Homo sapiens: one gene and its partners. The protein of the gene in region 1 interacts with the protein of each later gene in a biochemical or structural test. Each region holds a gene or a part of one and is shown in the gene's direction. Other genes may lie near its edges.

Region 1 (10,599 bases):
TATGAACTTTAAAGTAGTTTTTTCCAATTCTGTGAAGAAAGTCATTGGTAGCTTGATGGGGATGGCATTGAATCTATAAATTACCTTGGGCGGTATTTCTGCATACATGATTCATAAGTTATTTAAGAATAAAAAGGAATAAAACAAGGTTCTTGTCTCTACATCTGCCTACGTCTAATAGAGAGTTAAAAAGCACAGAAATAACTAAACAAAAGAAAAATTTTGGGGGCCTGGTGTAGTGGCTCACACCTGTAATTCCAGCACTTTGGGAGGATGAGTCACAAGGCTCCCTTGAGGCCAGGAATTCAAGACTACCCTGAGCAACATAAAAAGACCCTAACTCTACAAAAAAGGTTTTTAAAAAAATTAGCCAGGCATGGTGGTGCATGCCTGTAGTTTCAGCAACTCAGGAAGCTGAGGCAGGAAGATCACTTGAGCCAAGGAGTTTGAGGCTACAGTGAACTATGATCATGCCACCGCACTGCCGTCTAAACAATAGACGGCAGTTTGTTGTTTGTCTCCAAAACAACAAAAAAAGAAAAACTATAATTTAAAAAAATGTCATTTGGCGTATCATAAAGAAGTTCCCAGCAAAGAGAAGTATTCAGTTAGAGGATGAAGAAAGGCTTCAGGAAGGAAATGGAATTGGAAACCAAATTTGATAAATGAATGAGCTTTTATTCAAGAGGAGTGGGGAGAGAGAGTACATTCCAAGAAGAGGCAAGAGTATGAGTATAACTTGGGCTGACTTTGGGGAATAATTAAAAAGCAGGGTTATTGCAAAAGGTAGAGAACATACAGAACTGAAAAAAGACAGGGTCAGTCTATGGAAAGCCACTGTATTCATAAGTATTCTTTTGGTTGCAAGTGACCAAAAATCCAGTAAACCAGAAAAGAGATGGCACTAGCTGAAATAAAGATTACTTTAGACTAGCTTTTAAGTGTGGTTTATTTAGTGGCTCAAATTTTGTCTCCTGGAGCCTGCCTGGATTATTATTCCCCCAGGTTGGTTTTCTTTTCAGAGTTGGTGTGCTGGATTCTGGCAGTTCCAAGCTAACATCAGTAGAACATCCAGTCCAGAGGAAGAATCAATCTGCTCCCGAGTAGTCCTGGAGCTGAGTTCATTTCCCTGATTGACTGACGTGGGTAATATGCCCATCTCCAACTGTGACCAATGGGGACGGAATGCACTGGTTGGCTCAGCCTGGGTGCTATGTTGCAACCCCAAAGCCTGGTAGTAAAATGTTTCCTACCACACAAGTGGACCAGAGTGAGGAAGAGATGGTTATTCAAAGCAAAGAGCCTTGAGAAAAGAGGCTTCCTGCCACTAGAAGAGGATGTTGCTCTGGGCAGCAAACGATATTCCATGACTGTGAATAAAAAGCTGAAGTTTTGGGACATTAGTGGGCAATGGAAAGCCACTAAAGATTTCTGACCTGAGCAGCATTGTGATTAATGCTGACCTTTATAAAATTAATCTGGCTGCGATGTATATGACAGGTTGATGTAGGAGATGAACGGAGGTGATAAAACTAGCTTTAAGTGATAAGAGGTTTAGGGAATCTGGGCTAGGATGGCAGTGGCAACAGTAGAAAGGAGTAGTCAAAAGCAAGAAATATTTTTGTTCACAAATGTTTTCTCACCAGGAATAAGAAACTCTAGAAAGTACACTTAATATTAAAAGCAATATTGGATCACTGAAAAAACATTGTCCTAAAGAGTAAACAAATATAGTGTAATTTCTTAAATTGGTTTAATAGGAGGCCCAGCTCTGAAGCATCCAGCTTGTTTGTTCATTTGGAAGAACATTGCTGCCATCTCCTCGTCATCAGAGTCCACATACTCTTATTATTCATAATTCTTCCTGGCAGCCTGGGGTTCCCAAATTTTTTCCAGATCAAATGCCCTGAAACACCAGCTAATCTCATTCTATGTGTCGAAGAGACAAAAAGGGTAAGTGGGCAAACTTTAACAAAATGTTCCTCCTTCTGATTGAACAACAAATACCAATTAGTCATTTTAATTTTGGTCTACAATTATTTTGACTTTTGTTCTCTCCTGCACCATCTTTCAGCACCAGAGTTTGAATTCTACAGATTATGAAAGAATGATTGAATCATCAAAAGACTCTTATCTCTGATTTTTAAGTCCACAAGAACACTAACCTCATCATTTTTACTAAGTTTTTTCAAAGATTTAATAAATCCTGAATTTTCAATACCCATTTGAAATGCAGGAGGATTCGCTTACTAATAAGCAAAATTAAATTTTGTCAATACAAAATAGATTCTACTGCTACCTCTCAATTATTTAATTGTATTACAGTGATTAAAATTGCAGTGGTACTAAGCACATTTCTTGCTGTAAGAAAGCTGAATGTGCTATGATTTTATGCCAAGTCCACTGACCACTCAAAATACAGTGAGATTATTTTATAAATGGAGTGCAATATGCATTCTTCTTCTCTAGTGGTACTGAGGTTGCTCATGTGTTATCACTGCAAAAGGCAAGAGCTAGCTTTGCCACATATTTACATGAATAAATAAACCTTCTAGGCCACAGTGCTGGTCAAATTTTATGGTGCATACAAGCACCTGGGGATCTTGTTGAAACGCATATTCTAATTCAGTAGGTCAGAAATGGCACCCAAGAGTCTGCATTTCTTACAAGCTCCCAGGACATGCTGATGTTGCTGGTCCACACACCACGTTTTGAGTAACAAGGGTCTTCAAATTTAATTACAAAATAAATCTTTTGTAAAATATTTTTCTGGACCTAGCTTATTAGACATGCATTGTTTCTGAGGAAAATAAAGATAATTCAAATCTCATTCCTAGTCTAAGAAATAGTCTAGGAAAGTGAAAGTTAAGCTTAACCAATCAGAAACCACAAACTAACCTCTAACTATGGACTTTCCATTAGAATGATCCAAATAAATCCAGTATTCCTCTTTAACCAAATAATTTCTTTGCTCTGCTTCCACATTTACCCTATAAAATCTTTCCCTTTAACGACTTCCGACAGAGTCCCCAACTGCTTTCGGTCTGCTGCTGCCTGATGCATGAATGGCTATTTGCTCAAAAAACCCTTTAAAATTTTAATGTGCCTTAGTTTATCTTCTAACAGAAGGAATAAGTGTGAAGAGGAATTCTTCACAAAGGAAAGCTTTCACTCCTGAGATTTTGAGAATGTAGGCAGTAACGAAATCAGTGACTCAGGTTTAAGAAGAGAATATATTGAGTTCTAGCTTCAACACTAGGCAGTTGCCATTCTGATCCAAATGCTTTTATGGTTGTTGGCTCCTTGAACCTGCCGTTAGATAATAACAAGCATATAATGGATTGGAAAACTTTGACCCTATTGTTACTTCACAGATTTCTAGTACTTTTAAATCAAAGCACTATACTTTTCCCAGTTTTTATATAACATGATAGTATTATATGATAATTAGTACCATTTTAAAATCTGCAGTACTTGAGGTCTCAGAAAATCAGTCCTCATCTTTTCTGAACTGGGAAAAAAAAGTCTGTTTGCATATTCATATATCATGGTTGGTAATTTACAACTTCCTTTGCATACATTCAGTCCTCAGCAGCTCTGTGCAGCACACTAGGTAGATATTTGTCTTATTTCAAAATTGAGGAAATAGAGAGTTGGTACACTTGCCCAAGAGAGCATTGAGGTAGTGAGATGGAACTAGCACCTCTTGTTGCTGACTCCAAGTCCTGTGCTTTGTCCTATAAAGAACAATAAAATAAGAACTGGATGACATTTTACAGTTTACAGTGCTTATGAACATATCTCTATTTTCAGGGTAAAAAAAATAAGTTTTTTATACAGAGTTTAGACATGAAAAAACTGATGTCCAAAGTAGTAAAAGGAAATTGTCCAAGGGTAACTACTAGTGGAATCTAATAGGAATCCATGTCTCCTGCTTACAGGTCTTAGTCCTTTTGTGTTTGTTTGGTTGGTTGTTTTAGGACCTCAGATGCATTGAATTGGTTCATTTCACATCCTTTTGTTCATTTCACATTCTCCTCATTAGTCCATACATGGTTCTATTTTATTTAGTTACACAGTAATTTTTAATAGGATATTAGGTGTCCTATGAATCACTACCCGGCATAGAAGATAAGACATTAACATCTAAACTTCAAGTGAAATGCTTCCCCATCTATTTCCCTGCCTCCCTTCACCCAGGGTCACCAACACTCTGAACACTATATTCATTGTTCCACTGCTTTCCTTTTTATATTGTTGTATATGAATATATGAATACACATTGACATTTCTAGGGATTTTTTAAACTTTATAAAAAGCATATTATGCTATATGCAATATTTTGGGGATATCATGCTGTACATAATATGAGGGGCCTGTAGAATTGGAGATGTTTTTACCAACAAAATTAGGTAATCACAGTATACACCACCCCGTGGTGTGTGTGTATATATGAACATTTATTGTGTAGACACATCAAACTACCCAGTCTCAACTTGAGACATATTTAAATGCACTCTTCATATATGTGTGTATGTGTGTGTAAGTGTATAGTAGTAAAGGTCTATTCATTCAGCAAATATTTATTGTGTGCCTGCCATGTGTCAGGAAGTACTAAATACCTTACTGTGCACACACGTGCAAAACCAAGTGCAACACTCCACCCCCCTAAAAAAAAGTCCCTGATCTCATGGAAATAACATTGTACAGAGGGAGAGACAGACAGTACATAAAATAAATATGGAAAATATAAAGGATGTTAGGTGATGTTACGTGCTAGGGAAAAAAATAAAACATGCCAGATCCTCAGGGACTAGGGTTTGCCGTTTTAAATAGAATGCTCGGCGATGAACTGGGGATGAGGGGAGCGGGGAGTCTTTATTTAACGGGTGATACGGACGTAACTTTCGAGAGCTGAATCAGAACCGAAGTAAACTCTTCGGCAACCCCTGCACTCAGCCTATAATGTCTGTAGGATAACAGGCTCAGCCGCGGTGGATGGCCCCCGGAGAGACGATGCATGTCTTCCCGCCTTTCTTCCGGCCGGCCATCCTCTCCGCTAGAATCGCCCTGCCCGCCGACGCCGCACCTGAACGCCGCGCTGCTGCGGGCGTTGTACACCAGCGCGACCACCGCCTGCCGGCACCTCGCCTTGCCGCCGCGCGCGCGCAGCCCCGAGGACGCGCTCGGGGAGCGCGCACCGCCCGGGGCCGCCCTCGGGCCGCTCCCAGGCCCCTGGGAACGCGCGCGCGTGCCCGGTCCCGCGGCCTCTCGGCAGGCACGCGGCTGGGAGAACGGCGCGCGCCCCGCTCGGCAGCTGCGGCGGCGGCTGGTGTAGGCGCTCACGTCAGGGCTGGGAGGAGGGGGTTCGCAGCTCAGAGAGAGAGAGACATGAGGCAACCTGGCAGGAAGCGAGAAAGAGTTCGGCGAAGAAGGAGTGAGTTCTAGAGACGCCCCGCGAGCAGGACCCGCGCCTGCAGGAGAGCCTGGCCGACCCGGCTCCTCGCCTTCTCTGCGCGCTCTCCCGCGTCCGCTTTCAGCACCCCGAGCGGAGAACAGTTCCCGGCAGCCCGCAGCGCTGCCGAGTGGCCGCCGGCCGGCCGAGTACCCGGAGCTCCAGGGGGCTCAGGAGCACCCTCTGAGAACCCGCTGTGCACCCACCTTTTCCCCTCTTTTGGTGGGCAAGTAAGCACGGGGGAAAAGCATCCGGTGGCCTCAGGGAGCCCTGAAGAAACCGAAGCAGAATGTACCAGGGACACATGCAGGTAAGACATTTCTATAGGGCTGGAGAGAATTCTTGGGGGCTAATTTAAGAGCAAGGCGGTTCACCAAGTTTCTGTGGTCAAGTGCTGCCTTCGCACAGCTCAACAAGTGAAGTGATGCAACATGACCGTGACATTTCTGTCCGGTGCTGCCGGGAAAACTAGACCGGTTTCCGAAGGTGGGAGAAGGGGAGGGAAGACCTCAGAACTTCGATTGGGGAAGTTTGTTTTCTGTGCATTCCCTGAGCCTGTTTCTTTAAACAGGATCAAGGAATCGAAACAGAGGAAACCCTAGAGATGACCGTGTTTCCGTTGTAATCCTATTGATGCATCTCAGCATGTATGTCAACTGAAGGGCAAACAATAATAGGAAAGACAAAGCTTTTCCTTTACCATCTGAAAAGGTTGCTTGACTTAGAACACTCTGTCACTTTCGTTTCATTTTTTAAAGTGTTATATTTAAAAAACGATTTATAGTGTATTTTCCCCCTTCACATTATGGGACATTGCCATCTACTCCAATAGTCACAGGATGACTTGGGAGGATGAATTTCAAACACATGTCCAAGGAGCTCTAATGTTTTTCAGGGGAGGTGCTGCCTCCGGTTGTTATTAATATTCATCTGAGCTGAGCCGCTGCTTCTTTCCGATGCAAACACACTCTACTCTCTTGGGCAAGATTACTTTAACCTTGACTCCAGTTCTCATTCATACGGTTGGTTGGTTCTTATAAAGGCAGATATATGCTTTGGGAGAAAAATAAAATACTAACTCAGCTTTCTAAAGTATGAACTGGACTCTTTATCGCACCTAAATGGTTTAGTCATCAGGTTTGATGTTTGGGCTTCCTTTCCATTCCAAAGATGGTCAAATACAATCATTATGTGTGATGCCTTTATCCTGGTGTATAACATTTATGAATACTGAGGATTTTGCTTCTGTGTCTTTTAGAGCAATTGGAAATAGATAAATATGTTGTTATATTTATGACTTAGTACTACCCAGATTTAATTTCCATAACTTAGGGAAATTCTTTTGGACTATAATCCATTTTTAAATAAAACACAATATTTCATCATAGTCTCAATTTTTATAAGAATTCTCAATATACAGTGCCAGAATTCCAAAAGATTTCCCGTATGACTAACATCATCCTGTTTTGAAAATTATTAATGTGATTATATCACATTTGATAGACAAAAAGTAGTGAATGAAGTATATTTTTAAATATTATATATGATCAATGTGATCTGCATGTTTCTTATAAAAGCTACACCAATTGAAAAGTTAAGTAACATAGAAGAATTCAAATAATGACTGCTGAAAAAATTAACAAAGAATTATTACTATAGTTTTATGCTTCATCTTCACCCAAGAATGATACTTACAATTTTATATATTATCTGTTTTTTAAACAGTTTCTTCACAAGGGTAAAACAGGAAGATTTTAATAGAGTCAACCCTCAAAAAATTGTTCATTTACACAAAATTGACAATTGACCACTAAGGGGAAATTAACAAAAACTTTGCACAGTATTGTTTTGTTGCTTAAAAAATATGTTACTGTGAATGAAGAATCGAAGCAACAATATGGTAAATTCATGCACCCAAAAACAATTTTAACTCAATTTTCTCAATATCTCAAAGGAGAATGTTATTGAAACTTGAGTTGCCTGGAACAATGTCTGAGGGTTTAATTTCACTTTGAAAGAATAAACAAAATATAAGACTCTGCATATTCTCCCAACTTAATGTCTTTTGCTTGTGCACTGCTGTAACAGCAAATATGATGACTTGCAGTAAAACTCACAAATCTTTGCTGCCAAGCTTAAATTAAAACATTACTAAATAAAGACTGTAATCAATACATCCACCAAAATTTCAGAGCATAATACTTTTTTCCTACTTACTATTAACCATTAATGTTAAGCATAAAACTTCCGAGGCCTTAGTAGGTACGTTTAGTAGTTATTCAATAGTATGATGATCTGAATGGGCATCTGCTCCCCCCAACAAAAAAATACCTATGACAGATTGATTCATAATATACTTGTTGGCTTACATTTTAAACTCATATCTCTTCCCCCAAAGAATATTATTTAGCCTATGGACAAAATAACGTTTCCTTATCAGAGATACTATCATCTTCCTGTGTGTACCTGACTCTAATCACAGATAAGAAGAAACACATTCCAAACACTCCAAAATGTGTATGATTAAAATCTGAATCCATATTTGGTAAAGTGGACCAGGGATAAGCAGATTTACTAACATTTCTGCCAGCTTTGGAGTTAATTTGAAACATAATGTTACTTGACTGATACCTTAAAACAAGAGTGAAACAGAAATGTTTGCAATCTTTTGCTATGCATTCTAATTCTTCTCTTTTCTGTATCCAAGAGACTTTAAAATAAAGTGCTTTGTAAATTAGCAGTTTGAAGTAGGGGCAGGTGTTCTCAGGAAGACTTAAAAATAGTCTAATTTAAAACTCCTGTGGTGCCTTTGTTTTTGCAACTTAATGATTTTGCAGATAAAGTCTATTAATTCTCATACATATGGCTAATTCATCTGGTTTATGGTAGAATCTGAATTCATTTTAGAAACCGCAGACTTTTAAAAACACACATTTGGTTTGCTCTGCTAGTTCATTAGAAAATAAAAGTTGGCATCTATTACAGATAGAGCATAGAGTAACAGATATTTCTTGGTTTCATAGTAAAAGCCGCAGGTATATTTCTTAGGAGCAGGGTCCTGGAGCTATGTTTTTATCCAGCTGCCTTACCAATTATTTCCAAGGGGAGTTAGTCACCCCAGTAAATGAAGCAAAGGTTGCTTCTTTTGTGACTGTTTTAGATTTACTTATTTTTTTCTTTTGACCAAGGGCACTGATGATGATTGAATATACTTTAGCATCGGTTCTGACAAAACTCTGTTGCTCATTGAGGGCCTATGGTCTTAATTCCACCAATACCTCTGTATGTTCAGGGCTGAGGTGATTATTTGCCTATGTGCATTTGAGTTAACATTTCCAGTTAGAGGAAATTATTACATGTCTCTCAATGTTTTCTTAACCTAGCTGTTTTATTTCTGGGGTGGTATAAATACAGAGAAATATAATTTCAATTTTCTACTAAGATTTTTTGAATTGTTATTGAAGAATCCACAGCAATGGGTTTTTTAATAAAAGAAAGTTATTTCAGAAGGCAATCAAACAAAAAATCTATTTGTAATTGTAACTGATCTTTATTTTAGGCATTCAAAGCAGACTTTTTGACTTATTCAAGCTGTCTGGGGAATCATTCCACACCCTCTAGCTTCACAAGACATAAACTAAGGAAAATTTAAATGACAAAAATTGTAAGATTATTAACAGCCCAAAAAGTAGCCATTTGTTTTCCCCCAGGGGAGTTTTGCATTTGTTTTTCTATATGACTTTACTTAAGATTTTTCTTAAAATCTCTACAAAGGGGAATAGCTTAGGTAATTTAAGTTATGTTAGTACATTAGATCTCGCCCCTGGTGATTTATTTAGGTTCACTAGAAACAAAATACATAAGAAACCAATTGAAGGTAAGACTGTAGAACGTTGTTTTCAATACCCTAAACAGTAGGTTATCATAATTGAGGCCCTCAGCAAAACTGTAAAGCAGATGATATTTATCATGGGTACTTCCACCTCTCTAACAGATCCACTTTTTTCCCTCCTGGTACCACCTTTTTTAATTCTTGAGACAGGGTCTTTCTCTGTCCCCCAGGCTAGAGTGCAGTGGCCCAATCTCGGCTCACTGCTTGCTATGCCTCCCTGGCTCAAGCAATTCTCCCACCTCAGTCTCCCAAGTAGCTGGGACTACAGGTGCATGCCACCATGCCCAGATAATTTTTGTATTTTTTGTAGAGACAGGGTTTCACCATGTTGTCCAGGCTGGTCTTGAACTCCTGAGTTGAAGCGATCCACGCGCCTTTGCCTCCCACAGTGCTAGGATTACAGGCATGAACCGCAGCTCCCGGCTCACCCTTTTCCATCCTGTGTTCTTTCTTTCTTAACCCTTTGCTAAGGCATTAACTGCTAGCAAAGATATGACTAATAGCAATAAACCACCTGCACGCACACACATACACACATTTTCAGAGGCGAGTCTTTGAGATTAGTTTAGAGTTGGAACGGGGGTGGCATTTTCAGGAGAGTGAGCAGTGCTGGGGTTTGTTGTGTTGTTTTGGTCAGTGGTTGCTGCTGCCTTCCTCTCCCCCTTTGTTATCTCAGTTCAAGTGGCACCTGGTCTTCTTCCTCAAATGTCATCTTATAGGTAATGATGAGCATAAGTATGATGAAATATTAACTAGAACTCTGTTGAAGCAAATTCATGTACATTTAAGCTGTTGATCAAAATTATGACACAAGCTCCAGCAAGATTCTGAAGTGTCTTCCTGTATATTCACATGCAAATCATGTTTGGTATGGATGTAGTGTTGAGCTTTTAACACTTGAAAGTTATAATAGTTGTGGTATGCATTAGCAGAATACTTGATTAATCTGAAAATCTCATTCCCCAGCCATACTGGCCAATAGTTTATATACTTACTATAAGAAACACAATATAGTCTTTGTAGATTTTATTTGTGGTTTATAAATATTCCTCCTAAAAACATGTGTTTGAAAGTAAAAATTTCATCATATAAATGTTTTTATTATAAAACATTTTTTAAAGTAAAGAATAAGAAAAGGTTAAAACACAACTTGTTAACTCTACAATTTTGAATCTCTAGTATTACCACTGCCAATCCTGGAAACATTAAGATGTGATACACCATGTAGTCAAAACATCTGGCAGGCTGCTTT
Region 2 (10,190 bases), on another chromosome or scaffold:
ATAGAACTTCTTTAAATTAGCTCGAGTGTGAATTTAGACATTTAATATTATATTTATTTCCTTTTGTTAGGTGACTAAATTTTAGAAATACTTCTATCATTTCTCTTTTCAAATTTGTTATTTTGAAGCTAAATGTTTAAATTATTTCCAAATTAAAAATAATCAAAGCCTACAGTAGTTCAAATCATAATTTTTGGAAAACAAAATGGAAAATTATCTCTTAATAGCTATATAGCTTCAGCTGGCCAATAATGAAATCCAAATTTGCAAATGTTTGTTTACCATATTTTGGAAATCTAAATTTCAGTAAGGAATTACCCTTAAAAGTCATTTAAATAGAGAGTCCCTCTGTACATGTGGAATATCACTTTCTTCATACTGATCTCATTGGGAATATACAAACTACATTAGACATGCCTATATCTAAACCTCTGGTCTAGCTTTGTTTGATCATAGGACTTTCTAAGCCAATGTTTGGACTCATTTTGGCTTCTGCCTAGATTATACCATCTGCTTTCTGCCTTCCAGAATTCATAAAATCGTCTTTCTAATCATCACCCCTTTCTTTTTTCAACTCCTTTGTGGACATTTTATTCCATTTTCTGCATCTCTTTTGTTTTTGTTTTTTTTCTTTATTTCTTATTTCAGAGGATTGGAGTGGGAAGGATAAGGTATACTGTGTTTCAGCCTTGCATTTAAACCAAAAGTCTCAACCATGTTTTTTTGTTGTTGTTGTTGTCTTTTTTGAGACGGAGTCTCACTCTGTCGCCAGGCTGGAGTGCAGTGGCACAATCTCGGCTCACTGCAACCTCTGCCTCCCAGGTTCAAGTGATTCTCCTGCCTCAGCCTCCCGAGTAGCTGGGACTACAGGCGCCTGCCACCAAGCCCAGCTAATTTTTGTATTTTTAGTAGAGACGGGGTTTCACCATGTTAGCCAGGATGGTCTCGATCTCTTGACCTCGTGATTCACCCACCTCGGCCTCCCAAAGTGCTGGGATTACAGGCGTGAGCCACTGCGCCTGGCCTTCTCAACTGTTTTTTTTTTTTTTAAAACAAAACAAAACAAAAAAACATTATTTTAAGATTGAGTATTGGCAGTCGGATATTTTTGTCAGAAGGAATTTGCTGATATAATAGAAAATGCTGCTAATAATTGTTTTTTCACACCATGAGACTTGTTTTAAGTTGTGGGAAGCCTTAATGGCTTTTAAAAGAAAATGATCAAACAAGTCATTCTTCTTTGTTGTTTGTTTTTATAGAGATTTGCCTGCTGACCAAAGGACGTCGTACTGCCAGTGTTCGAGCTGATACATATTGTCGTCTTTACTCACTTTCCGTGGACAATTTCAACGAGGTCCTGGAGGAATATCCAATGATGAGGAGAGCCTTTGAGACAGTTGCCATTGACCGACTAGATCGAATAGGTACTCTAGTTTTCTACCTTCTTTATATAAAATTTAATCTCCTGGCATAATACAGGTTTGCAATTATAAGTCCCAAATGCAGTGGGGAGTGGTGACTCATGCCTGTAATCCCATCACTTTGGGAGGCCAAGGCAGGTGGATCATTTGAGGTCAGGAGTTCGAGACCAGCCTGGCCAACATGGTGAAACCCTGTCTCTACTAAAAATACAAAAATTAGCCGGGTGTGGTGGCGTGCACCTGTAATCCCAGCCACTCAGAAGGCTGAGGCAGGAGAATCTCTTGAGCCTGGGAGGTGGAGGTTGCCCTGAACCAAGATGGTACCACTGCACTCCCGTCTGGGAGAGAGAGTGAAACCTTGTCTCAGAGAAAAAAAAAAAAAAAAAATCCCACATGCCAGTTTATAGCTTGCTTGTTAATTTGTGTAGAAATAGCAATTAGCTGTAGCCGTATTTCTTGAGAGATCTGGGTCCCTATCTATCTCTTCTAAGTATTCTGGGTTTATTTATTAATGTCTATTTTTGCTAGCTAAACAAACTGATTTCCCGACTGATGCCAAAACAATTTGAATCTTCAGGTAAAAAGCAATGATAAAAATTCTAGATAGCATTGAAATAGAACTAAAAATATGATATATGAGTCTATATTACAAACTAAGTTTTATCACTTTTTTTGTATTTTTGGATCAACTTTACATTTTATCTTTATATTAGGAATTGAAAATTTGCACATTTAAATTAATCTCAGCAGAGACATAATAAAATGTTTGTAATATAGACTCAAGCAGAAAAAAAAAGCCTTGATAGTAATGCCCTACATAGATGCTTTACCTCGCAAACATCAACATATTTTAAAGTCTTTTCTGCTACCAAATAAAAAAATATATATATACAACCATTAGGCCTTATTAGTTATGCTAGTTTGAAGATTTGCATAATTGCCATAGTAAAGTTAGCTTGGATTGGCTTGCTGTTAACATTCCTAGATATCCTGGAACATTATGTTGTAAGGTAGTATGCATTCATTTTCCACACCTAAACCCTCTTTGCCACCCTCCCCTTCTCTACTTTTTTTTGGTCAGCTCGACTCTGCTCAACCTTCCTCTCTCTGTTTAGATATCACCTCCCTCTAGAAACCTTCTCTGACCTCCCACTCCCTACTAAGCCCAGTTCCTTGGATGCATTCTCCTATAGCCTCTGAAGCTCCCCCATCACAGCACTGCTTTTATTACTGGCTCTAGAGATGCTAAATTTGTCAATGTAGAGCTCATGTTTAATTCACCATTACATTCACAGTACCTAGTATACAATGAATATTTGTTGAAGAGAGGTAGGAAGGGAGGAAGGAATAAATGAACTCAAAAAAGATGGGGCTGGGATCACTTGTGATAAACAAGGAGGTACCTCAACTGCTTCATTCTTATTAAAGGTAAGGACTTCAGATTGATAAATTGTTATGTTGGCTTTTTTTCTGCACTTCACATTCACATCTTCCTTTCTCTCTATATTAGTAGGACAGCAGACTGCATAGAGATCTGAAAATAGATTAGAAGTAAAGGCAGTATTTGGACATCATCATTAGATATAACAAACGTATTAGAAATTCATATTGAAATCTTAGAGATTTAACAAGACCTACTCATTCAGGGAGACAATACCCACAAAAGAAGTAGGCACTCCTGAAGGCATCCTTACTTAATTGGAAAATAACTTCCCTCTTTGTAGTGTGTGAGTGTTTATGTTAGAGACAGAGACTAATTTCTAAGCAATGAGTTTCTTCCTAAACCAGCTAGACATCCTTAGAGAAAACATTAAAATCAGGATATTTCACTAGATAATTTCTGTTAATCTGATACAGCTTCACTTTCATCTAACTTATTGCAGTTAATTTTTTTTTTTTTTTAAGACAGAATCTTGCTCTGTTGCCCAGGCTGGAGTGCAGTGGTGTGATCTCGGCTCACTGCAGCCTCCGCCTCCCAGGTTCAAGCAATTCTCCTGCCTCAGCCTCCTGAGTAGCTGGGACTGCAGGTGTGCACTGCCACGCCCTGCTAATATTTTGTATTTTTAGTAGAGACGGGGTTTCACCATGTTGGCCAGGACGGTCTTGACCTCCTAACCTCATGATCCACCCATCTCAGCCTCCCACAGTGCTGGAATTACAGGCATGAGCCACCGCGCCCAGCCTGCAGTTAATTTTTATAACAATATTTACATGAAATGGTTCGTAATCAATACAGGCAATGCAATTTCTAATAGGCACTAAGCAATTGAATTTTTGATCTTTATAACATAGTAAGAGTGTATTAAAAGTTACATTATTTTTCCCAAGGTTAAAGATACTTAGATTAAGATATTTTGACTGTTCACATAATCAGAAAGAAACATTATGCTTCTCGGTTTTGTGGCCATTGCATATAGATGTATGCTGCAGTTAGTTAAGCAAATATGCTAAATAAGCATTTATATTTATTACTAATGTAGGAGTTTTTGTTCTTTGGGAAATTAGGACAGTCTGTAAGTAGGGAGAGGTAACTATTTTGGCAGTCATTTAAAATGATTGCATTCCTAGCAGTCAATGAAATTACAATACATATTTATCTTCAAAAATATATTTTGTTACCTTTAATGTGTTAGTTTATTTAGCAATATCGCAAATTGATTCACTTTTCAGTTACCATATTCACTTGGAGATTAGTGTATCAATGATGCCATAGAAAAGTCACTACTTTCCCCTTCTTTCACCAATCCACTATTCATTCTAATAATTATTATGCCAGAGACTGTCTAGTATTGCAAACCACTCAGAAGATGATGGCAGGAAAAGCTGTATTGCAAACCACTCAGAAGATGATGGCAGGAAAAGGTAAAATTTATTGAGGTCTTAGAGGGAGCTGAGAGCCTGCAATGCACTATGCCCTTGGTCCTCACAACAACCATTCAGAAGAGGAAAGATCATAAAGTCAGTCTCAGTCTTGGCTGCATTTAAGAATTCCCTGGGGAAGCTGGGCGTGGTGGCTCACGCCTGTAATCCCAGCACTTTGGGAGGCCGAGGCGGGTGGATCACAAGGTCATGAGATGGAGACCATCCTGGCTAACATGGTGAAACCCCATCTCTACTAAAAATACAAAAAATTAACCGGGCACGGTGGCGGGCACCTGTAGTCCCAGCTACTCAGGAGGCTAAGGCAGGAGAATGGCATGAACCCGGGAGGCAGAGCTTGCAGTGAGCTGGGATGGTGCCACTGCAACTCCAGCCTGGGCATCAGAGCGAGACTCCGTCTCAAAAAAATAAATAAATAAAATAAAATAAATAAATAATAAATTTTAAAAAAAGAATTTCCTGGGGAAATTTGCTTTTAAACTACTGAAATTCAGAGCCCATGTATGATTATTTAGATTTAATTGGTAGGGAACAAGTGGATGTTAGTATTTTTTAAAGCTCCAGAGATAAGAAAAATATCCAACTAGGACTGAGAATGACTGGTGTAAGACACTGGGTCAAAAGCAAAACCTGATACAGTCCTCCTCAGATTTGCATTTGGGAATCACCTGGGGATCTTAGTAAAATGCAACATCTGATTCAGCAAGTGGGGTCAGGCCCAGGAGGCTGAGTTTCTAGCAAGCACACAGATGAGACAGGGGCAGTTGGTTCATTTTCCATAGCAAGGATGTGCAATCACTTTTTTGTGTATATGGTCTTTCTCAGCCCTGTTACCTGCCAACCATGTTTTTTTTTTGTTTTCCTGGGCACTGTTCTTAGTCTTCTCATGTCCTGATCTCCTTTCAGGTAAAATGAGATTATGAACACACCTATCTGACAGGGTCGCGGGTTACATAAAATCATCTACCTAAGGTCTTTTGTAGAGTGCTTATCACATAGTACGTGTTCAAATGTTCTCGCTTATGTCTCCATGGTCCTTTCTTGAAAAAGTAACTTTAAAATCAAATGTTGATTCCAAGCCCATCCTATTCCAAAAGCCCTTTCTTCCCCCATTCTTCAAGGTGGCCCTCATGTTAAATATCTCCATTTCTTCTGTAAAGTGGCTCTTTGCCATATTACAGGCCGTTCAACTTGAGTAGAAGGTAAGAGTTCCCAGAGAAATACAGGAAGTGTGAAAGGTAGGAGCCACATTGGTATTTGGTGTGTAAAGGTGAGTGACTGGCTTTTTAAGCCTCTCCTGTGAAGCACAGCTATACTTCTGTTTGCAGGAGCCACTCTCACTTGGCGTTGTCATCAGTCATTGGTAGGCTTTCTAAGTGCCTATCTTTCTTTTGCTGACAGGAAAGAAAAATTCAATTCTTCTGCAAAAGTTCCAGAAGGATCTGAACACTGGTGTTTTCAACAATCAGGAGAACGAAATCCTCAAGCAGATTGTGAAACATGACAGGGAGATGGTGCAGGCAATCGCTCCCATCAATTATCCTCAAATGACAACCCTGAATTCCACATCGTCTACTACGACCCCGACCTCCCGCATGAGGACACAATCTCCACCGGTGTACACAGCGACCAGCCTGTCTCACAGCAACCTGCACTCCCCCAGTCCCAGCACACAGACCCCCCAGCCATCAGCCATCCTGTCACCCTGCTCCTACACCACCGCGGTCTGCAGCCCTCCTGTACAGAGCCCTCTGGCCGCTCGAACTTTCCACTATGCCTCCCCCACCGCCTCCCAGCTGTCACTCATGCAACAGCAGCCGCAGCAGCAGGTACAGCAGTCCCAGCCGCCGCAGACTCAGCCACAGCAGCCGTCCCCGCAGCCACAGACACCTGGCAGCTCCACGCCGAAAAATGAAGTGCACAAGAGCACGCAGGCGCTTCACAACACCAACCTGACCCGGGAAGTCAGGCCACTCTCCGCCTCGCAGCCCTCGCTGCCCCATGAGGTGTCCACTCTGATTTCCAGACCTCATCCCACTGTGGGCGAGTCCCTGGCCTCCATCCCTCAACCCGTGACGGCGGTCCCCGGAACGGGCCTTCAGGCAGGGGGCAGGAGCACTGTCCCGCAGCGCGTCACCCTCTTCCGACAGATGTCGTCGGGAGCCATCCCCCCGAACCGAGGAGTCCCTCCAGCACCCCCTCCACCAGCAGCTGCTCTTCCAAGAGAATCTTCCTCAGTCTTAAACACAGACCCAGACGCAGAAAAGCCACGATTTGCTTCAAATTTATGATCCCTGCTGATTGTCAAAGCAGAAAGAAATACTCTCATAAACTGAGACTATACTCAGATCTTATTTTATTCTATCTCCTGATAGATCCCTCTAGCCTACTATGAAGAGATATTTTAGACAGCTGTGGCCTACACGTGAAATGTAAAAATATATATACATATACTATAAAATATATATCTAAATTCCCAAGAGAGGGTCAAAAGACCTGTTTAGCATTCAGTGTTATATGTCTTCCTTTCTTTAAATCATTAAAGGATTTAAAATGTCGTTGTAAGATTATTTATTTCTAACCTACTTTTACTTAAGTCCTTTGATATGTATATTTCTCTATTTTATGAAGAGTTCTTGGATTCAATGGAAACAAAACTGATTTTAAAAAGGCAACTCAAATGAACTAGTAAATAGCACCAATCAAAACTTTCTTTCATTAGCTGTGTCTCTGCATCTAAATTGTTAATCATTAATGGTGGAGAATTAAATAACAAATCCCATTTTATAGATCTAAATTGTATTTCGGTGCTTTCAATTTCAAATTAGGTTAAAGAATGCACTACTTGCTTGGCCACCGTAGGAGACTAGCATTGCCACTGTTTGTTAAGAATATCACTAACCTCAAACATGTTCATTGATCTTTCAGAAAGCTGAGGGAAAATTAATATTTGTCTTCATGTGTTATCGGACTTTTACCAAGACTCGATCAATGTTAGTTGTAAATAACTTTTTCAACCCAAATAAAAATAGCTATTCTGTGTTGTATGAAGGTAAAAGTCATTGTTTAAGAATTTAGTTTTATTGCTTCACTTCAAAACTTAGAGTTTTAAATTTTACAAAACCTGATTGTGAGAATTATTCAATTGTAATGCAATGGCTTGAAACCTACAATATTATTTTAACCTGCAATGTTTTATGCAAAATTGTATGCTCGAATCTACAAATTGCTTGTATTACACCAAAAATCGTTACTTTTCTTTCTTCTTGCCATAATCAAGCATCTGAAAATAGTCCCTGCATGCTTCTGGGGAAAAAAAAATAGGTTCAAATCAGTCATTGTAGAGAAAGGCTTACAGTATTTCTCGTTTCTAGAAAAGCATAACAATTCATTAATTGCCTATCTTATAATTCCTATAAGGCTGACTTGGATCTCTGACTTAAGTCTAGAAGTGAGGTTTTCACTTTTATTTAATATTATTGCTATTATTATTTAAATAATTATTTGTAAACCACAGCTTGATTTGGAGTTAAGTGTTGTCTGTGTCTTCACTGTAGCTGGTAATTTACTATGGTATTAATTTAAAGAAATAAATTCAATACAGCATCACGTCTGTTTGGGAACACACATTTTGCTCTATGTATATTGTAACTAAATGGTTAGTAAACTTTAAGGCATGTGGTGACTAACGTAGCCCTTAGATAGGAGGTTTGTCATTTTTAATGTGTTGAAAATAGTACAGACATGGTGACAGAAAGCAGGGGTAAAGTTGAACGTCTATGAGCATTGTCTGTCTGTTTTCTTAACTCTTTACATGATCTGTGAGCACCTGCTTCTTCTCAAAGAACTCCCTTAGTAATCATTTGTGCCTAATGCATCCCACACATGTGGAGTATGACTGGAACACAATTGAAAGATTCCTAACAACTGGCTGCGGTAAATAACCCAAGTTAAGAGCATGACTTAAAGTGGAGGTCTTCAGTATCTCTGGCACTGGCAATACATTTAAGAACATACAGAGATCACACATTATGTGGGACAGGGCCTGCAGATAGACTTGAGGACAGAAAACAAAAACAAAAGCAGAAACTCTAAAGTGGATCCTTGCTGCCTGTTATGCCTTTTGTGGATATAATACCTATAATACCAAAATGAGTTGTTATGTTTAATTTCAAACAAATCCCAACTGGTGTGGAAGTAATTAACTGCTAGTCGATGTAATGTAATCATCAATATGCTGGTGACATATGATGGCATGTCAGGAATACTGTTGTAAGAAAGGGATTGTTCAGTCTACCTAGAACCTATGGGAAAGCTGCAAGACCATTTACATATCAGTACAAAACTCCTTTATTTTATTAAAATATGAGAATTAACTTCAATTTATTAAGATTACGTATTGGTCCTTTAAATTATTAAAGGTTTACATTTGATAGGATTAATGGATTTGGTAGTGAAATATTTTTATATATATAAATTTTTGGTTTTTTATTTTGAGCACTATTGGGAAACATAAGCAAAATTGAAATGCATGGTCTTTCAGTGCAACCATACAATTTTTATTCACTTTGTAATAGAATGGACAAAAAAACTAAGGTTTATATATTAAACTAATAAAAAGGTACAGGGTAAATTATATACATATATGTATGAATGTATATATACTTAGATTAAGAAAAAAAAATGACTCACATTCCTGTAATATAAAGGTCCATTGCTAGTTGAAAAGTGACCTCTTTTCTCTGTACATAGTGAAGCCCGTATGTATGGAGTTTTAATCTGTACAGAAAGAAATGTATTATTCATTGGTCTTTCTGCTGCTGGAAAGATAATAGAATAGCTGATTCTTACAACAACTGTATGATCAGGGATGAGTTAGAGTATTTCTTTTGTCTTTGCTCAAAGCCATACATATATAAATATATATAAAGATTATTAATAAATTCAACAAAAAATAAACTACAATCATGAATATTTTATTTTATCAATATATGCTAATCAAATGTTTTATTTTATTAATGAGTACAGCTTTGCCTCTATTTTTACATCATAAAATTTCCAAGAGCTTATACTTGATAATCACATAAAATCAATTATATTCTATAATTCTGGAATGAGAGGACTTTAAATAGAACATGGATTTTTCAACCACTTCTTTGTTTACCTTTTTCGTATAGTAAAATATGAGCTTATTTTCTTTTTTGCTCTGTGCCTTTTTAGAATGTGGTTGTTCTCCAACTTCAAAACACAACCATTTTGTGTAATTATTGGATATACAGATGAGAAATAATTTTCCTGTAATAATGGTAAATAATTGTCCTGTAATATATTTATACAAACCTATTTTGTTATAATAGTTCTATGACATACCTATTTTGTTATAATAGTTTTATAACATACCTATTTTGTTATAATAGGGCCTTGGGCTCTATTATAACAAAACAGGTTTATATAAATACATTCATATTTATAGCCTTAAACAAAATAGGTTTGTATAGTAGGCCCAAGGCCCTATTATAACAAAATAGGTTTGTATAAATATATTCATATTTATAGCCTTGGGCCCTGCAAAGTTATTTGGAGAGTGATAGAACCTCCCCACACAAGTGGGTTTTAAATGATACCTAAAAGCCTGAGATAGAGTTTATCATAATGAGAATAAGTAGTGAAGCATTCCTGAAAACAAGGAGGATAAATAGTAGCAATGGCAATATATTCTATTCACCAAAAAAGTAGCTTGTCTCCAGGTCTGGATGACCTCTTCATAAGTGAACAATTCCCTGATGAATGCTGTTCCACTTTAAAGAGATGGTTATTTTGCAATTTATAAACTTAACTGAGCATACTATTTTCAGGACACTACAAAGTACATAGTCAAGTTATTACCGT
Region 3 (10,190 bases), on another chromosome or scaffold:
TTTGATCCTCCCTCTTACCTCTTTCCTGCAAATTTATTGATTTTGATGATTTATTTACTCATTTCATAATGTAGCTGGGCATAGGTCAGAGCATTTGACAGAAATCAATTGATTTCCTCCTTATGACAGTGCTGCTAGTCAGGTACTGTGGTTATCCTCATTGAGCAGATAACAAAACTGAGGTGTGGCATGGTAAAGTGACTTGCTAGTAAACCATGGAGCAGGAATCGAACCCTGACTTCAGGCCCATCCCTCCTCCCACCATATTATACTGTCTCTCCAGCAGCTCTGTGATGTTCCAGGGTAGTGGTTTGTGGGAAAGAATGATCCAGGATCCCGACCCCAGCCCAGATCGAGTGCTGGAAATATCCCTGAGCATCTGGAAGCTCAAGATTGAAACCATTAGTCAGAGTGCGAGGAAATGGGTGTTTTTGCCTTATGCAATTTGGTTTTATGAAGACCACAAAATGCAAACATTCTCCTGTTAATTACTCTCTCAAATTTGGACTGTAATTGAGGGAACTAGAGCTGGGGAGAGTGTAGAAACCCGTTGGAGTGGCAGGCCCGCCCGAGTCAGCATTCCCAGCCGCCTTGCACCCGCTCTGTTAATTTTAGAAACTCCTCCAGCCTGGGTGTATTATTAGCTTTATGTACAGAGGGCCACATAGCCCTCAGTGGCCTTTCTATGCACAGTTAAAAAATTTGTTTTCTTTTGTTTTTCCCAGGAGATTAAATGAAGAGGGATGACAGCAGAGTGTATAGAGGGGTGTTTGTGCACTGTGTGTGTGAATGGGGATACCTGCGTGTGGCATCTAATGAGTGTACACAGCTGTCTTTGAGTGAGGTCTATGTGGCTGGGTAGAGCATGCACGGCTCTAGGGCACCCCATAGATGCTGAAACCATCCTCCTGGGGCCCATGACTCATTAGCAGGTGTGCTGCATTCTTTGTAGTAAAGTGTGAAGCTGAGGATGGGTCCTCAGGCCTTAGTTGGGTTCTCTCAGCTGGCATATGGGTACTGGGGCCACAGGAAGGAGTGGTGGGTCATGGGGTAGAGAGGAGCTGAAGTTGGCCTCTTGGCATCCGGCCTTATCCCCCATAAGGCCCTGTCTTGAGGCCCTGAAGAGCTTGGCTTTCAAAGGAGCTGCAGAAAGCTGACTCTCTGGAAACTGCCCTTTGCCACACAGTGTGATGTAGGACAGCCATCTCACCCACCTTCAGCAAAACAGGCCCTACCCTCTCCTTGAATCACAGCCCCATTTTGAGTCTGGCAAACAAACAAACAATTTGCTATGAAGTAATTTCTTTGCAACCTGGAACTCTGCAGGCAGGGGCACTTTGGTTTACAGTGAGACCCTCTGAAGACTCGAGGAAAGCTTATCTCTTTCTTTCCCACTTCCTTCCTCCTGGCTTCCCTGCAGTAAAGAATCAAAGATGGTGGAAAGGTTATTTCTCCTGGGAGAAGACATGCTTATTTCTGCCTCACTTAATACCTTTATCTGTTATTGTGTAAATGTCTAAATTAATAGCAGAGGGAAACAGCTCTGCAGTGCAAGTTTTTGGTCTTGGGGCCAGCCCTGGGATGGCTGGTGCTTGGGCAGGGTCCCTGGGAATAACTGGCCATGCCTTCTGGATTGGGGTCTTGGCCACCTGTGTTGTTTCCACACTCCAGAAGGCCCCCTGCTTGGTGAGTTGGGAGAAACCCACCACAGACCTGTGAGTTGGTGTTGTGCCTCCTCCTCATGCTGCTCAACTTCTCCAAGGCTTTGCCCTGAGGCTCCCTCTACAAACGACTTGAAGGTGCCTGAGGCCTTAGGAGAAATGATTCTGGAAGCCCTGGGCTGGTCTCTTTCTATCACATTGAGTGGTATCTCACTGGTGCCTGAAATCCCCCCATTAATTATTCTTGTTTTGAAGCTATCTCTCCCCCTCCACACCCCCATGTTAGGATGCAAACCTCTGAGGGAAGGAGATGGTCAGACATTTTCTGATTATAGGGGATGGACTAAAGGTGGATGCCAGAGAACCAGTTTGGGAGAGGGCCAGATCAGAATGATAGGACTCATTACACAGTGAGGAAACTGAGGCCCAGAATAGGGAGGCCCTTCCGGATGTCACATAGCATGTTGATGACAAAGCTGGGGCCGGAGCCTGGGCCTCCTGCCTTCCAGGCACCTGAGTCATGTCTGTACCTCCCCTGCTCTTTGGTCATGGTCTGTGGAATGTCTCCCTGACAGCCCATCTCAAGCCACAGCTGACCCTCAGGGAGGATGGGGCAGCCTAGCCTGAGCCTGGGGTGGTGTGGGGTGAGCTGCTCCTTTTGCTAAAACAGCCTCTTGCTTCTCTCTGAGTGTCACTGATTTGCTTTTCAGCCTGACTCTTACTGCGGGCTGGGGATGGGAGGAGGAAGCTTGTTGTTGGGGCTCGGGGAAACTCACAGAAGGGCAGCACGGAGGGTATCCTTAGTGAATGAAGAGCCTCTTATTGTGTCATTCCCTGTGCCAATCTCCACATCTTGCCCTGGTACCCATGTGCCTGTCTTCCTGTCTCAGAACCTCCCAAGACTTCTCTGTCCCAGATGCTGTCCCTCAGATCTTCCTCCCTTAGTCTGTAACTTGTCCTCTCTCTCTTCCTGGCGACTGACCCCTGTGTCTCTGGGCAGATTTTACTGGGACCTGACCATGCTGCTGCTGATGGTGGGAAACCTGATTATCATTCCTGTGGGCATCACCTTCTTCAAGGATGAGAACACCACACCCTGGATTGTCTTCAATGTGGTGTCAGACACATTCTTCCTCATCGACTTGGTCCTCAACTTCCGCACAGGGATCGTGGTGGAGGACAACACAGAGATCATCCTGGACCCGCAGCGGATTAAAATGAAGTACCTGAAAAGCTGGTTCATGGTAGATTTCATTTCCTCCATCCCCGTGGACTACATCTTCCTCATTGTGGAGACACGCATCGACTCGGAGGTCTACAAGACTGCCCGGGCCCTGCGCATTGTCCGCTTCACGAAGATCCTCAGCCTCTTACGCCTGTTACGCCTCTCCCGCCTCATTCGATATATTCACCAGTGGGAAGAGGTAAGTGGTCAGTGCAAACCTCTTGGGGGAAAGGCCACTCCCCACAGAGGGAGTGAGGAACTGGCAGGGAACCTCAGATAATTGAACATAGGCTGTCAGATTGTGGCAGGCACACCTGCTCCAAGAGGACAAATACTAGTAAGTTCTTGACCTCTTATCATGTGCTGGATACTTTACATGCAGTATCTCAATGAAGTGTGTAACAGCTATAGAGGGAACCATATAGGTACATGTATATACTCATTTTTCACCTGAAGAAACAGACAGAAATATTAAGTGACTTATACAAGGTTGCATGATTAGTAATTTGTGAACCTGGAATGTGAACTTAAGCCGATCACCTCTAGAGCCCACATTATTAACCACTGCGTTATGTTGTAGGGTTTGTAAACCCATAAACTTGTTGGGGACAGGCAGGGAATAGGGATGGGTGAAAAGGGCCAGTTGGGGGACAGTAGACAGTGTGGTGGATGAGAAGAACTAGAGAACATCTCCGTTATATTGGGTGGCCTCTATGCAGCTCCAGCTAATTTTTGTCAAGTGGGAATGGGCCCAGGGTTGCTAGATCTATAGCATTATGAGAAATGGAAATCTGGATTTTTATACAAATTTTGTTGGCAACTCTCTTAGTTTGGGTTCTTCCTGAGCAGAACCTGAGACAAAGATTTGCATGAAAGGGATGTTTTGGGGATGCATTCCCAGGAAAATCTGGTAAGGGGACTGGGGAGAGGGACAGGGAAAGGCAGGAAGCCAAGCAATGGTTGGACATTGGAGGGTGTCCTGTGGATGGCTGTTTGCCTCAGCCCTATGGGATCTGAGGATAGTGTGCGCCACACCTTGGAGTTGTCCCAGTCAGGGCAAGGGAGTTGGAATGTTTATATCCCCTTACCTGTCAGTCATTGGTTCAAGGCACTGCCAGCCCTCAGCACTCACAGCCAAAGCAGTTTCCAGCAGCCCGGGCAGGCCTCTGACAAAAGGTGCGGCCGCTGGCTGTAGAGAGTGAAATCACGCGGGCAAGTTGGAGTCTTGTGCTCAGAAACTGTAAAGGGATCCTAGGGGCTGTGAACACTGGCTACAGGAGGAAAATAAAACATTGAAAAAGAACTGGGCGGACCAACTGCATTGTGAACAAACCTCACTCATCCATGGGCTGAAGCAGTCATCTGCAGCAGAGGAGCTAAGGGCTTTGCTGGGAGGAAGAGCAGCTGACCTTGCCAAGTGCTTCGGTCTGTGTCTGCCACCCACCCAAGTTACACAACTTGGCAGCAGCGGCAGGCAGGCCAGCCTGGAGGGCCTACTCTCTCTGTGAGACAGCCCACCTTGGATCCCTGCCACCTGTGGGCGGGACAAGCTTCCATGGAGGGCCATTTCCCGCTCCATCCCTGTGCCGCGTGGCTGACTTCCCAGCCTCCAGGACCCCCTGCTTGCCTGGCAGAAGTTCCCATGTTCAGGACATGAAGCCCCCCATGCTCACCCCCAGCAGCAGCCTGGGCCTCGACTGGCAGCACCTATGGCTGATGGTCAGAGGCGTCATGAACGCATGTGCCATAGGAGAAGTGTGTGCACCAGTTTGGCAGCGTCCCTCCATGGCAGAAATTCTCTTTGGCTTGGAAAATTCACATTACTTATGCTGACAGAGAGGGGCCGTGACTCTCCCAAGGTCATGCAGTTAGACCTCTGGTAGAACTGGGACAGAATCCAGCTAGCCCTCTTGGCCCCCAGCACATAGTGTGGGCTGTCCCACCCCGGTGTAGTGGAATGGCGCATTTAAGACCCAAGTTAAAATCCCGGCTCCACACTGCCTAGCATGTAGCTTTGGGTCCACTTTGCCTCTCTGTGCCTCAGTCTCTTTATCTGCAAAATAGGTATAAGTTGTACCTGATGTTTATAAAGCCTTAGCATGAAGCCTGGTGCAGAAGAACTGTTTAATATGTGTCCCTCCTGGCCGGGCGCGGTGGCTCACGCCTGTAATCCTAGCACTTTGGGAGGCCGAGATGGGTGGATTGCTTGAGGCCAGGAGTTCAAAACCAGCCTGGCCAACGTGGTGAAACCCCGTCTCTACTAAAAATACAAAAAATTAGCCAGGCGTGGTGGTGGGCGCCTGTAATCCCAGCTACTCGGGAGGCTGAAATAAGAGAATTGCTTGAACCCAGGAGGCAGAGGTTGCAGAGTGAGCCAAGATCGCACCACTGTACTCCAGCCTGGGCAACAAGAGTGAAACTCCGTCTCAAAAAAATAAATAAATAGATGTTATTTATATTTATAATATATATATATTTATACACACACACACACACACACACACACACACACACCTACCTCCCTCCCCACCAAGTTGTCTTAGTAACATTTCCTTGGTTCCCCATACTTAGCTGTCAAGAGAAACAGGGCAAGATTTATGATCCTCATGTGTCAAGTGAGGAAACTGAAGATCAGAAAGGCCAGCCGCCCCAGTGGTAGGGCTTTTGGCCTAGGCCTCCTGTCTTCCTGTTCCATGCACTTCCCGCCTTCTCAGATGGAAAGGGAATGACTTTGATTCTACGATTGTTTCCTTTCATGGCTGGGGCCCCTCCATGGGGGACTGGACTTCATTCAGTCCAGCAAGTGCTTGCCGGGCACCCACCTGTGCTGGCCTGGGTGGGCGCTGGGATCAAAGGACTAGGACGACTGTTGGCAGAGAGTGGGAGGGCAGTGGCAGGGGAGGAGATCTGTGCAACAGGTTGAGTTGGAGGTGCCTGTGAGACAGAGATGTGCAGAGATGTGGCAGGTGGTCTGAGCTGAGGGCTGAGAGGGGACAGTGACTCTGGAGGGTGCGGCTGGGTCCACTCTGAGGGGCTGTGAAGGAAAGATGGAGGCGTGTTTCCCCTCATGCTCTGACACACTTGTCTCCTGGTTTCCGTCGCAGGTGGAAATGTAGGACCAGGTTGGCTCCCTCAGACCCTGAGAAACCCCCAACCTTCTGCATGTCTTGGACCCACAGCTAGACTGCCATGAAAAGCAGAGACACGCCAGCTCTTTCCCTCCTCCAGCATCCATTCGTGTCTCCAGGCCTCAGCCTCCCAGGGGCTGACCTTACTCCTCCAGGGCCTGAGGGCTGTGGTCTTTTGTAGGAGTTGGCAGAGATGCCAGTGGCTGGACAGGGTGAGTCGTGGGTTGGAGCTAAGCTTGTCTTTCACGTCCCCACATTATGCATCCTGGGAGCTCAGGCCCAGGGCTCCTGTCCCCACTGCCACCCTGGCCAGGCCACCCTCTTGGGCACCCAGAACTGGTCAGGCGCTGGTCCTGGCCTTTCTCTGGGGGAGGCAGAGGCCCCAGGAGGCCTTGAGTCAGGCCTCTGAACTAGACGTGCCGCCCCATCTCGTGGGGAGGAAGAAGATCCCAGGAGGCCAGATGGATGACTCTCACCCTTCCACACACAAACCTTTATCTCTCCTACCAGCTGGGAAGAAAATTGCTTTGAGCTAGTTTCTGCCGGGCACACTGGCCAGCCTAGGGCTCTCACTGGACCCCTGAGATTGGACTGGGGTTTCCCAGCTGGCCCCAGGAACCCTGTCTCCAGGACCATAGCAGGCCACTCCAGCCCGGGGGCTTCTCCCACCTCTGCTTGGCCCAGAGGCAGCAGCAGAAAGACCCTTTGGAGCCCTAGGTCCACATGAGAGCTGAGGAGAGTATTTAGTACAGAAAACCCTGCCCTAATCTCCTCTTTCAAGTCCCTCTATGAGTCTCTTTCCTCCTTTGGGCCTCAGTTTCCCCACTTGTGAGGCACATAATGATGTTCTCTGAAGCTGTGGCTCCCTGGGGCCCAGTCCCCAGCTCCCATCTGCCTTGGCAAGGTTTATGTTAGCTGATTCTGAAGACCTTGTTGTAGCTCACGGAACGTGAAGGAGGATGCCCTCGGTTGGGGCTAGGGAGCTTGCCTCCCACAGACTGGGGAAAGCTTGCCCCAGGCTGCCTGGCACTGCAAGAAGCTAGACTCCTGACCCCAGGCTTCTACTGCCTCCCCCAGCCGGGCCCAGACCAGGCCCCCAGGAGATCTCCTAAGTGTTGGTGGCAGTCAGGCAGTCTTGTGAGTCAGCGCAGGTGGGCCACCATCTTGGAGGATGCAAGCCTCTTGCCTCCATCCTGGGCGATCTGGGTCAGCAGACTCCCTCCCGAGCCTCTCCAGCCATGCCTCCTCCCTCCCTCCGAGGTGTGAGCTTGTTCCAGGCATGGAGGCTATTGTTAGAAACCATGGTTACCCTTCTTTGGACGTTACCCTGCAAGGCTCAGCACTCCAGTGACCCATCCCAGAAGTCTCTCCTCTCCCTTGGCAGCCTGAAGTGGCCAAAGAGGGGCTGGAGGCAGAAGGCCAGCTGGGGCTGCTGTGTGGCCTCTGATGAGTCCCCTCATCCTGTAGACCTTGATTGCCTCATCTCAGAATCAGGTGCTTGGCATCTGCGAGAAGTGGAGATGACACAAGGAGAGGTCCTGGGGCGTGGGTACTGGCCCTGTCTCCTGCACCCAGGATGGGACCCGGCATGACCCTCAGTGCAGCTGCCTTCAAACTGCACCCAGCATGCATATGCAGCAGCCTGTTCTGCCAGGCCTGGGGTTGCTGTCTTCAACGCAGACACTTGTTCTTGAGACACAGGTGGAAGTTGTTCTTCCATGAGGAGAAAATGAATCCACAGGAGAGGATTCAATCAGGCCCCAGGAAGAGGCCTTGGTGGAAACAGCAGCAGCCAGACCTCCAATTTCTGGCCTCTCCTTGGGACTGAGAAATCAACTCTTTGTTGGGAGGGCTGGGAAAGAGAGGGAAGGAAAGGAACCAACATGTCCTGAGTGCCTACCATGTGCTAGTGGTGGATATGATCTCACCTGACCCCCATGATAGCCCTGAGATCTGGCAATTACCCATTCCACAGATGAGGAAACTGAGGCTCGGGGTGGAAAAGGCAGTGGCTCTGTCCTTGCACTGCAGTTGAGAAACTGCAGAAGGAGTGAGAGCAGGGCTTCCCCAAGTTCCATGTGTGGCAGAGTGAGCTGCCTGGACCGCCTGACGGGCAAGGCTTGTAGTGGCCTGGAAATGAAGGTGCTCAACCCCTGCAGTCAGAACCAACATCGTAAGAGGGAGTTCTAATGAAATATAAAGAGCAAGGCAAATATTTGCCTGGTGCAACTGACTCTCCGGTGGCCTGTGGCCCCAGCCAACAGTGGGGACACACCAGTGTTTAGCAGCCTCTCCCAGCAACGTCCAGCCTTGTTCTCGGCAACCACTTCCCAGGTGCTGGAGAGTGGTGCAGGTGAGGTGAGTGTCCTCAAATCTAGGGCACCCCCTAACCTGAATGGATGTGCCCCCACCAGCTCTTCCCAGGCAGCTCAGACTGTGCGTTGTTGGCGCTCCAGCTTTGTGGTGTCTAAAAACCACCTGAAACACACCTCTCCAGCCCTGCCACCTGCACCCACCACCCCAGTGCCCACAGTCCTCCTCACCGCAGTTCCAGGCTTCACCACCACCATGCTCTCAGTAGGACACGGAAGTCTGTGTCCCCTGCAGGAGAAGGCACCTTGGTTCTTCCCACAGGGACAAGGGTAGGTTCCCTGTGGGCTGCATCTGCCCAGAGCGGGTACCTTTTTGTTCTTCCACTGTCTACACTAGCAGGAGCCCTGCTGACCACCATTCTCGTCACTGTCACCATTGCCTTCACCTTCATCACGAAGCCCTTCTCAGTTCCTGAAACCTTACCACATGCTCTGTGCCGTGTTCATTGCTGAGATCACGATAAAGGCACAATTAGACAAGGACCTGATCTTAGAAGAAAAGGAGTAATGAAAAGATAAAGGCGATACAGAAGGAAAGGAGGTCATTGCAGGAAAACATGCCACCTTCGATGCTCTGTCTTTAAGGCCCAGCGTGATCTGTCCAAAGGAGCAGTTACTGTGGCCTGTGACAGTCTGGGACTCTTTCTAGCCATGCCCGGAGGCTTCCTTGAGCTCCCATATGGTACCCACTCATTCATTTAGATGTACGCGCATTTATTCAGGCAATCAGCAGATATTTTTGATGCCTGCTTGTGCTAAGCATGGAGGAACACAGAAGTGAGAAGTAGAGAGGAGCCCTGCCTCGTGCAGCAGCACGCAAGTCAGTGAATGTCATTTCAGATAGTGAGAACTCCAGGAAGGAAATTCATCAGGGCAAAGAGTCACAGTGAGAATGGGAAGGGAGAGCCCTTGGCTGTGTCACACACAGGGATCCAGTGTCCTTCCTTTCCATGGAAGTGGCTTTTGAGCCAAGACAGGATGACAAGAAGGAGCTGGAGGCAGCACGCAGGCAGATGGAAGAGCAAGCCCAGTACTGAGGGCCTGGGGCAAGCACGAACTGGCCTGGGGCATTCAAGGACATGAAGGAAGGCCGCTGTGGCCAGAGATGGCTTTGGGCAGAGTCAGGGAGGCCGGTAGTTGGGAGCCGAGATGCCGAGGGCCACAGTTGGCATTTGGAGTGTATTCATGGGTGCAGTGGGAAGTCATTGGAAGGTTTATGGTAAGAGAGTGACATGGTCTGATTTATGTCTCCAAGAGGTCTTTCTAGCTGCTTGGTTGAGAGTGGCTTGGAGGGGCGGGGAGCCTCATCAAGAGGTTGGGGCTGTCATCTTGCGGGTGTTTAGATTGGGGTCATATTGGGATTGGAGGGAAGTAAATGGCTTTGAGATGTCCACTTAGGCAGTAGAGCCAAAACCACCTGGATTGATGGGATGTGGGGAGGGATGAGAGACTCACTCACGGCTGGCTGGTGGGTTTTTGTTGCTCAGCCTCACGAACAGCGACACCAATTGTGAGATGGAAACAGGTTTTGGATGTGTCCACGTAGAGATAGACCGAGACAGCTGGACATACGAGCCAATTTGTGTTACTCTGAGTCCACCTGTGTGTCTTAGGCATGACAGAAGCAAGGAACTGGGGGTATCCCAGGGCTTGAAAGAGGAGCACAGGGAAGGTTGCCTTCATCAGAGGAGGAGCATTGCCGGTCTCCACAGCCCCTTGTGATGGCGGCAACACAGTTGCATCCTGGGGAGCCCTTTAGCCAGGGAGACCCCACTCAGGGTGCTTCCAGAGATGCCCTAGACTT

The links.
Region 2: the proteins of PEX5L (region 1) and HCN1 form a complex in vitro, tested with the Homo sapiens proteins (one study listed by BioGRID).
Region 3: the proteins of PEX5L (region 1) and HCN4 interact in a biophysical measurement, tested with the Homo sapiens proteins (one study listed by IntAct).

The regions. Positions count from the first base shown.
Region 1 is NC_000003.12:180,031,745-180,042,343, reverse strand, and holds the start of PEX5L (PEX5-related protein), read left to right. Parts: upstream 1-5,406; 5' UTR 5,407-5,744; coding exon 5,745-5,765; intron 5,766-10,599. UniProt on the Homo sapiens protein: Accessory subunit of hyperpolarization-activated cyclic nucleotide-gated (HCN) channels, regulating their cell-surface expression and cyclic nucleotide dependence.
Region 2 is NC_000005.10:45,258,323-45,268,512, reverse strand, and holds part of HCN1 (potassium/sodium hyperpolarization-activated cyclic nucleotide-gated channel 1), read left to right. Parts: intron 1-1,259; coding exon 1,260-1,424; intron 1,425-5,702; coding exon 5,703-6,592; 3' UTR 6,593-10,190. UniProt on the Homo sapiens protein: Hyperpolarization-activated ion channel that are permeable to sodium and potassium ions. Displays lower selectivity for K(+) over Na(+) ions.
Region 3 is NC_000015.10:73,336,280-73,346,469, reverse strand, and holds part of HCN4 (potassium/sodium hyperpolarization-activated cyclic nucleotide-gated channel 4), read left to right. Parts: intron 1-1,285; exon of another isoform or gene 1,286-1,414; intron 1,415-2,661; coding exon 2,662-3,085; exon of another isoform or gene 3,086-3,200; intron 3,201-3,974; exon of another isoform or gene 3,975-4,157; intron 4,158-5,404; exon of another isoform or gene 5,405-5,457; intron 5,458-10,190. UniProt on the Homo sapiens protein: Hyperpolarization-activated ion channel that are permeable to Na(+) and K(+) ions with very slow activation and inactivation. Exhibits higher selectivity for K(+) over Na(+) ions.